Homo sapiens: one gene and its partner. The main gene of each other region encodes a partner of the protein of the gene in region 2 in a complex. Each region holds a gene or a part of one and is shown on either strand. Other genes may lie near its edges. The genes, in order: AP2B1 and LDLRAP1.

Region 1 (3,912 bases), on a different chromosome or scaffold from region 2:
GTAGAGACAGGGTTTCACCGTGTTAGCCAGGATGGTCTCGATCTCCTGACCTTGTGATCCGCCCGCCTCCCAAAGTGCTGGGATTACAGGCGTGAGCCACCGCGACCGGCTGTAACTTCTAATGAAGACGTCAGTTTTTGCCATCCTGTATTTTGGAGACTCTGGCTATGTCCATATCTAGCATGTGATTAAGTGTATCTCTCATTATATGAGGTGAGAACTCATTATATGAGAGATACACTGAATCATATATATATGTGATTTTTTTTTGAGGTGAAATTCACGTACCATAAAATTAACCAGGTTAAGGCATACAGTTCAGTGGCATTTAGTACACTGACAGTGTTGTGCAACAATCATGTCTTCTGATTTGTTTTTATTTACACTATTTTCATTTTTCTTGGAGTTTCTTTTGGCTTAAGGCAAGAACCAGCTTGGCACCATGTTTCTCTGCCAATATGGTTAGGGAATATTTTGTTACTATTGTTTACAATATGGTTACTAGAGTGATATCCCTTCTCTTTAGAGCAGCAGGGACTCTTAATTTAGAATCTATCTTATAGGCTTCTAAAGATACTTGACCCTCCTCTCTTCCCTGAAATTTTGTGGGTGGGTGCATTATTTTCTAGTTAAGACAAGAACACTTAATGCTCACAGTGAACAGGATAGTAATATATTCCTTGACATTGAAATTGTTAGGGGAGATAATGAAATATGTGAGCTACTGATAAAGGTATGACTTAAGACTTAGGTTAATTTATTGTTTAATAGAATGTAGTGAAAATGCCTGTTAAGAATTTACTCATGCCTGTAATCCCAGCACTTTGGGAGGCCGAGGTGGATGGATAACTTGATGTCAGGAGTTCCAGACCAGCCTGGCTAACAAGGAAAAACCCTGTCTCTACTAAAATACAAAAATTAGCTGGGCGTGGTAGTGGGTGCCTGTAGTCCCAGCTACTCTGAAGGCTAAGGCAGGAGAATCACTTGAACCTGGGAGGCAAAGGTTGGAGTGAGCCCAAATTGAACCACTGCACTGGAGCCTGGGCCACAGTGAGATTTTGTCTCAAAAAAAAAAAAAAAAAAAAAAGAATTTAATGGGCTGGGCACGGTGATCCCAACATGTAGTCCCAGCTACTCGGGAGGCTGAGGCAGGAGGATTGCTTGAGCCCAGAAGGCAGATGTTGCAGTGAGTCCCAGCTGGGACTACAGGCATGTGCTACCATGCCCGGCTAATTTTTGTATTTTTATTAGAGACGGAGTTTCGCCACGTTCCCCAGACTGGTCTCGATCTCCTGAGCTCAAGCCATCCGCACGCCTCGTCCTCCCAAAGTGTTGGGATTACAGGCGTGAGCCACCGTGCCTGGCCAAAAAAAATTTAATATGTGTATGTATAAGAGGCTTTTCAGAGAAATTGGGTGACAAATTCTAAGGAGGTTTTGTTTTAAAATCTTAAACAAGTTTTAAAGGACATAGCATAGCATAGTAAATATCCTAGACAGATTGTAATGGATTTGAGCTATAGTCCTTCTTTGAGGCTCAAGTAATCGTTTCTGTTTACTGGTTTTTCTGTTTGTATATATACATTCATAAATAACTTCAGATTTATTCCAGGTCTTTTATGTGAAGAATTCCTTTCTTCATTTGCCCACTTCACATTTAGTTTACATTATGAATGGACTAAATGATTATAACATTCTTTGAATTTTTGCTAGAAACACATTGTAAAAACATTGCATAAGGCAAGCTTCAGTATAATTTTTAATTATAACAAGTATTAAAGGAGAAATTTCTATATTCTGTAATGATATTTGTGAGTCCTAGCTCACTTCTTTTAACAAGATCATTCTGTGAATTTCTGGTACAATCTAAAGAGCTATTAGGATCAAGACTATAAATAGTAATTAGCTGGTTGGAAAGATAGCAAATGAGTCTAATTTCCATTAAACTGTACAAGTAGCACGTTTTAGAGATCAGATTTGAACCAGAAGTTTTTCATTATTTTATGTTTATCTGGCTCTTTTTTCTTTTCTTTAATTACATTGATTTGTTTGGTGCTTAGGTCTTTTCTCCTAGATCCATATTTACTATTGTTTGCCAAATACATTATGTCATATTGACCTGATAATAATGAGCAGGTGCCAGCATGTCTTGTCCTGAAGTTGGTGATAAGTATTATTAGTGATGGTGATAAGGAAAAAGATACTCATTTTGAGTACAGAAGGAATATTATTAAAAAATATATGTATATTTATATATTTTTTTCCCCTTGAGACAAGGTCTCTGTCGCTGAGGCTGGAGTGCAGTGGTGAGATCATAGCTCCCTGTAGCCTTGATCTCCTAAGCTCAAGCGATCCACACACCTCAGCCTCCCAAGTAGCTGAGACTACAGGTACATGCCACCATGCCTGAGCCACCGCGCCTGGCCCAAATTCCTATTTATTTATTTATTTATTTGAGATGGACTTTTGCTCTGTTGCCCAGGCTGGAGTGCAGTGGCGTGATCTCGGCTTACTGCAGCTTCCGCCTCCCAGGTCCAAGCGATTCTCCTGCCTCAGCCTCCCAAGTAGCTGGGATTAAAGGCACGTGCCACCATGCCCAGCTAAATTTTGTATTTTTAGCAGAGACAGGATTTCACCATGTTGGCGAGGCTGGTCTTGAACTCCTGACCTCAAGTGATCCACCCGGCAGCCTCACAAAGTGCTGGGATTACAGGCGTGAGCTACTGTGCCTGGCCCCAAAATTTTAATATATTTAAAGAAGTCTGGTACATTGGACAAAGTCTTATAGTTTCTCAAATCAGAAAAAGTAGTCTTATTATTTAGTAAAAATGTGACCAGACTGTGCCGTTTTTGTTAGTAGAGCCATTTGTCATCTGGATTACTTCTTCTGGAAATTGGGATGGAAGAGTTAAGGTTGAGGTTGAGATCCACGTTCTTTTGTTTCAACACCAGTTTGATTCTCGTGTCTGAACGGATGTCTCAGTCTTTTGCCTTGTTTTTAACTATAAACTGGCATTATTTGGGAATACTCTTGGGCTAAATCTGGATTGTTGGAAGTAAGAAAGCCACATTTTTTTTTAAATCCAAAAATATAGTTAGATACAATGAATAAGATCTAGTATTTGATAGCACAAAAGGGTGACTGCGGTCAACAATAATTTACTGTACATTTAAAAATAACTAAAAGAATGTAATTGAATTGTTTATAATACAAAGAAAGGATAAATGCTTGAGGTGATGGATATCCCATTTACACTAATGTAATTATTATGCATTGTCTGCCTGTTATCAAAATATCTCATGTACCTATACGCACCTACTAAATACCCACAAAACTAAAAATTAAAAAAATTCCATGCATAAGTCATGGTTGCCTCTCTAGATGTTTGTTGTGAAAGAATATTGTCCTACTAATTTTGAATTTTTTTTTTCTGAAAGAGATTCTTTTTATTGAAAGTTTCATGTCATAGATCGGCAAAATTGTTTTTTCTTTTGACCTTACACTGCTTCAGAATATATGTTTTGGAGTGATTCCAGCTTGAGGCAAGGAAGTTACCAGATTTTCCTGAATGGAAAGTAATTGCAGATATATTTATAAAAAGGTCCAGCTTTAGCTCTTGAAAGCTTTGAGGAGTTACTGTGGATAAAATCACAAAGCCATAATAGGTTCATACTTTTACCCAGTTGCATTTGGCCTTTAGATTTTTGCCCCATTAGCTTGAGGAGTTACATTCTTAGTTTTTCTTGAACCATCAACGGTGGTGATAAAGGAAGATGATACTCATTTTTAGAAATTCTTAAATATAAGTGTTCCTAAAATTAATTGGATGTTCTTAAAATTAATTGGATGCCTTGTTGGATATCTATAACCTGAATGAAGGAATTCTTTTCTCTTGCTATAGGTGCACATTAA
Region 2 (3,912 bases):
AGAGAAATTCTCTTCCACATCCAAAGCGGCTACCTCTTCCACGTCCCCAGATTCAGAGATATTTCTTTCTAGCCTCCCTTCCCTTGCCAGCCCCCCTTCCTTCAAAACCACTTCCCTGGGGGCTGCCCCACCACCCTCCCTCCCTCATTCCTGGAGAAAACCCGCAGGATTCTCCCACTGGAACAGATGGCCATCTCAGAAGTCCTGGTCAAATCTTGCCAGTTTTTAAAGGGTCTATTTTGGGATGCAATCAGTGTGATAAACGGTACATCCCCTGGCCTAGTGGCCCAGCCCTAATGGGTCTCTGACCCCACCCCCCACCAGCAGGCACCACCCCACATTCCCAATGCCAATGCCAGTCTCAGCTGGGAGGCGGCCACAGCTGAACAACAGAGTGGGGCCAGAGGAGGAGGGAGGCGGGCCCTCTAGGCCCAGACACGCTGGCACTCCTTGGACCAGGGAGCTCGGGCTCCCCTGGCAGAGCCCTGTAAGGCCAAGAGGGGATGGGATGAGGGGGTGCTGTACTGTCAGTTGTTTCCTGATGAGGGGAGAAGCTGTGGCCCGAAGTAGGTGGCAGGGAGGTGGGAGTGTGCAGCAGTCCTGGGCTCTGGCTCCAAAACCAGCAGGAAGGTGTGTGTGACCCCAGGCAAGCCACTCTCTTCTCCCTCCCAAACAACGAGACCTGCGCTAGGCTGGGTCTTCTGGCTTCAGGGGAAGGTGCCAGGTGACAAGTTCCCTGAGCGTAATCAGAGACTGGGGGAGAGAAAGGGGGGGAGGCCCCTCCCAGCCTCCCAGACGCCCCAGGGAGAGGTGGCGGCGAGTCTGTCGTTTGCCTGGGCACCCAAGGGACTCTGGAAGCCCGAGGGGAAAGGTGCGAGAGAAAACAGGTTTCAAAAATAGTCGGGACGCCAGGCTTGCCACCTGGACCCGGCTAGAGGAAGGGACGTAAGGGTCTAGATCGCCTGATGTGGGGCTCTCCCGAGGCACCCCAGGCGGGGCCTCGTTCCCAATTTCAAGTACGTACCTGCGACCCCGGGCTCACACCTGGATGGGTGTCTGGGCACCCGGAGTCAAAAGTTGGCCCGGTGGGTCGGGCAGGGGGCGGGAGAACGGGCCAGTGGGCTCCTGACCGCCGCAGCTGCTGGCTGGGGCGCAGGGGTGCGGGACGGGGGCGTCTTCCCAAGCCCCTGCGCCCTCTCCTCCTCCCCTAGGCACCGACGACGAGCGCCTGCCTCCCCCTAGCTGGCCAGGACAGCAGGGCGGGAGGTGCCGCGGGTGGCGGGGGCCTCTTCTCCCAACCTGCACCCCACCCCATGCCGGCTGCACCTGAGGACCCCGAGCTCGGGCTCCTTCCTCAGCGCTGCCCCTCCTCGCAGCGGCATCGAGCGGCCGGCGAGTAGGTGCACAACTTGACCCCGGCCGACCCCCTGCCCCGCAGGGCCGGGAAAGGGCCACGCCGGGACCGGAGCGCCGGTGAGGCCCCGCCTCTGCCCAACTTGGCCGCACTCCGGGCGCCCGCGGAGGCCCCGCGCGCCTCTGCCCGATCCCGGCCCGGCCCGGCTGACGCGCGCACACTCACTGCGGTGCCGGCCACCGCCCCCCCAGCTCTGCTTGGCCAAGCTGGGGCTCCGGATCAGCGCCCGCCCCGCCGACTTGAGCGCGTCCATGGCCCGCTCCGGCCGCCGCCGCCGCTGCCGCAGCCAAAACTCCGTCAGGAAAAACTTTCCGCCCGGCCCTGCGGCGCGCGGGCTGCGCGCTCCTCCCCTCCCAGCGCCAGCTCCGCCGCGGCGTCCGACGGGGCGGGGCGAGAGAGGACAGGCCCCGCCCCCAGACGGGCCGCGCCCCCGACGGCCGGTCTCGCCCCGCCCGGTCCCTGTCCAGGCTCCAGGTCCAGGCACCAAGAGTTTCCGAGGCCGCCCGAAGGCGCCAGAAGATAGCAAATCGCAAGCCCTAGACGCCCCCGCTTTCCTCCTTTTCCCCAATCCCCACCCCGTAGGGGCCTGAGGGCCTGAGAGCAGCGGCCTAGGATTTCCAGTGACCATTTTACAGATGGGGAGACTGAGGGCTCCTCCAGTGGTGAAAGATCTTGTTCAGGGACAAAAGCAATGCGATGTCCAGGGCAGTGGGAGACTTAGGAAATAGTGGAGGCTGTAAGCCAGGGATATCCAAACTTTTGGCTTCCTTAGGCCACATTGGAAGAAGAAGTGTCTTGGGCCACACATGAAATACACTAACACTAACGACAGCTGATGAGCTGAAATATATATATATACACACACACTCATGTTTTTTGTTTTTCTGTATTGTTTTTTTTCCCCTGAGACAGAGTTTCACTCTGTTGCCCAGGTTGGAGTGCAGTGGTGCGATCTCGGGTCACTGCAACCTCTACCTCCCGGGTTCAAGCTATTCTCATGCCTCAGCCTCCCGAGTAGCTGGGATTACAGGCATGCACCACCATGCCTGGCTAATTTTTGTATTATTAATAGAGATGGAGTTTTACCATGTTGGCCAGGCTGGTCTCGAACTCCTGACCTCAAGTGATCTGCCCGCCTCAGCCTCCCAAAGTGCTGGGATGGCTGTGAGCCACCACACCCTGCCCAAAAAAATCTCATAATGTTTTAAGAACCTTTACCAATTTGTGTTGGGCTCCATTCAAAGCCGTCCTGGACCTCACATGGCCAGTGGGCCACAGGTTGGACAAGCTTGCAGTATAGACCCTTGTTAGGCGCAGGGTCGGTATATAAAAATTTGCCTTTAGCAAGTCCAGCCAGGCACTTTACTCATCCTCGTAGCTCCCAGGCTGCTCCCTGGCACCACCTGAGCATGCTGGGCCACCCCATGCCCCCGCAACTTCCCAGGTAGCCTCACAGATGGTATGATCTGGAACGTGCCCCTGACACTGACTTGCTGTGTGACCTCAGGCAAGTACTTCCCCTCTCTGAGTCTTGTTTATCTGTGAATGAGAGTCAATGCTATCTCTAGTGATCCTTCCAACCTGCCAGGGTCAAGAATCTGCATGACCTTGACCCTGACCCCAAGCTGCTTCCTAGGAGCATTCGGAGGGCAGTCTGAACCCCAGAATTGCTCAGGCACAGATGTTCTAACTCCAGGATTGGAAGGATTTGTTCTAACTCTCTAGGATGCCATGCCTTCCTTTCAAACTGTGCCAAAAGGAGCCAGAGGGAGGACACACACATCCAAGCCACAGCCTGGCTTCTTTTAGAAGGGGGTGCCTCAGGCAAGGCCAACTTCAACCTCTGTAATTACTCCTGGCTCAGAAGCCAGCAGTCCTCTCTGTGTCGGGAGAAAGATAGTGCTGTGCTGTCCCCAGCTGGATAGGGCGGCCTCACTGACATTCCCCTGTTTATAAACCAAGTGCTTTGTTAGCCAGTCTGTCCTTGGCTTCCCCAGCAACACTGCTTAGGTGGACCCACTTTACAGATGACAGCCCTAGGTCAGGGAGGGAAGCATTCACTGATAGTCTCCGAGAGTCAGAGACTGGGATCAGACTCAGGCCCATAGGCAATGGGGTAGAGTATAATGCCAGGGGTTAGAACCCAGCTGTCCTTCTGGTGGTTGTGAACTCACCCTTCTGAGCCTCATCTGTAAAAGGGACAACTATATCTATTTCACAGGGCTGTCCTTAAGGACTAAATAACAGGAGTTGGAATGGCTGAATCCTGTTCTTGAGAACCCACCTTTAAAGTTGCCTCCTCCAGGAAGGCTTCCCTGACTACCACCCATGGATTAAGTTTCTCTTTGTGGGCGCCCACAGTCCTGAACTTTCAGGATTGCAAGCACTACTGCTGCCTGTTTATACTCCTCTCATCTCCATTAGACTTTGTACCCTCCAAAAGCAGGAAGTTTTTCTGATTCATTTCTGAATCCCAAATGCCTAGTAAGGGGTCCAAA

The links.
Region 1: the proteins of LDLRAP1 (region 2) and AP2B1 are in contact, whole or in part, in a crystal structure (PDB 2G30), measured with the Homo sapiens proteins. Residues at the interface, in NP_056442.2 of Homo sapiens: Asp253, Leu255, Asp256, Ala258, Phe259, Ser260, Leu262, Ala263, Gln264, Arg266, Thr267; in NP_001273.1 of Homo sapiens: Arg834, Gln835, Phe837, Leu838, Trp841, Glu849, Gln851, Ile876, Ala877, Arg879, Val881, Glu882, Gln884, Met886, Tyr888, Glu902, Arg904, Ser915.

The regions. Positions count from the first base shown.
Region 1 is NC_000017.11:35,590,107-35,594,018, forward strand, and holds part of AP2B1 (AP-2 complex subunit beta), read left to right. Parts: intron 1-3,901; 5' UTR 3,902-3,912. UniProt on the Homo sapiens protein: Component of the adaptor protein complex 2 (AP-2). Adaptor protein complexes function in protein transport via transport vesicles in different membrane traffic pathways.
Region 2 is NC_000001.11:25,541,454-25,545,365, reverse strand, and holds the start of LDLRAP1 (low density lipoprotein receptor adapter protein 1), read right to left. Parts: upstream 1,761-3,912; 5' UTR 1,668-1,760; coding exon 1,580-1,667; intron 1,416-1,579; exon of another isoform or gene 1,025-1,415; intron 1-1,024. UniProt on the Homo sapiens protein: Adapter protein (clathrin-associated sorting protein (CLASP)) required for efficient endocytosis of the LDL receptor (LDLR) in polarized cells such as hepatocytes and lymphocytes, but not in non-polarized cells (fibroblasts).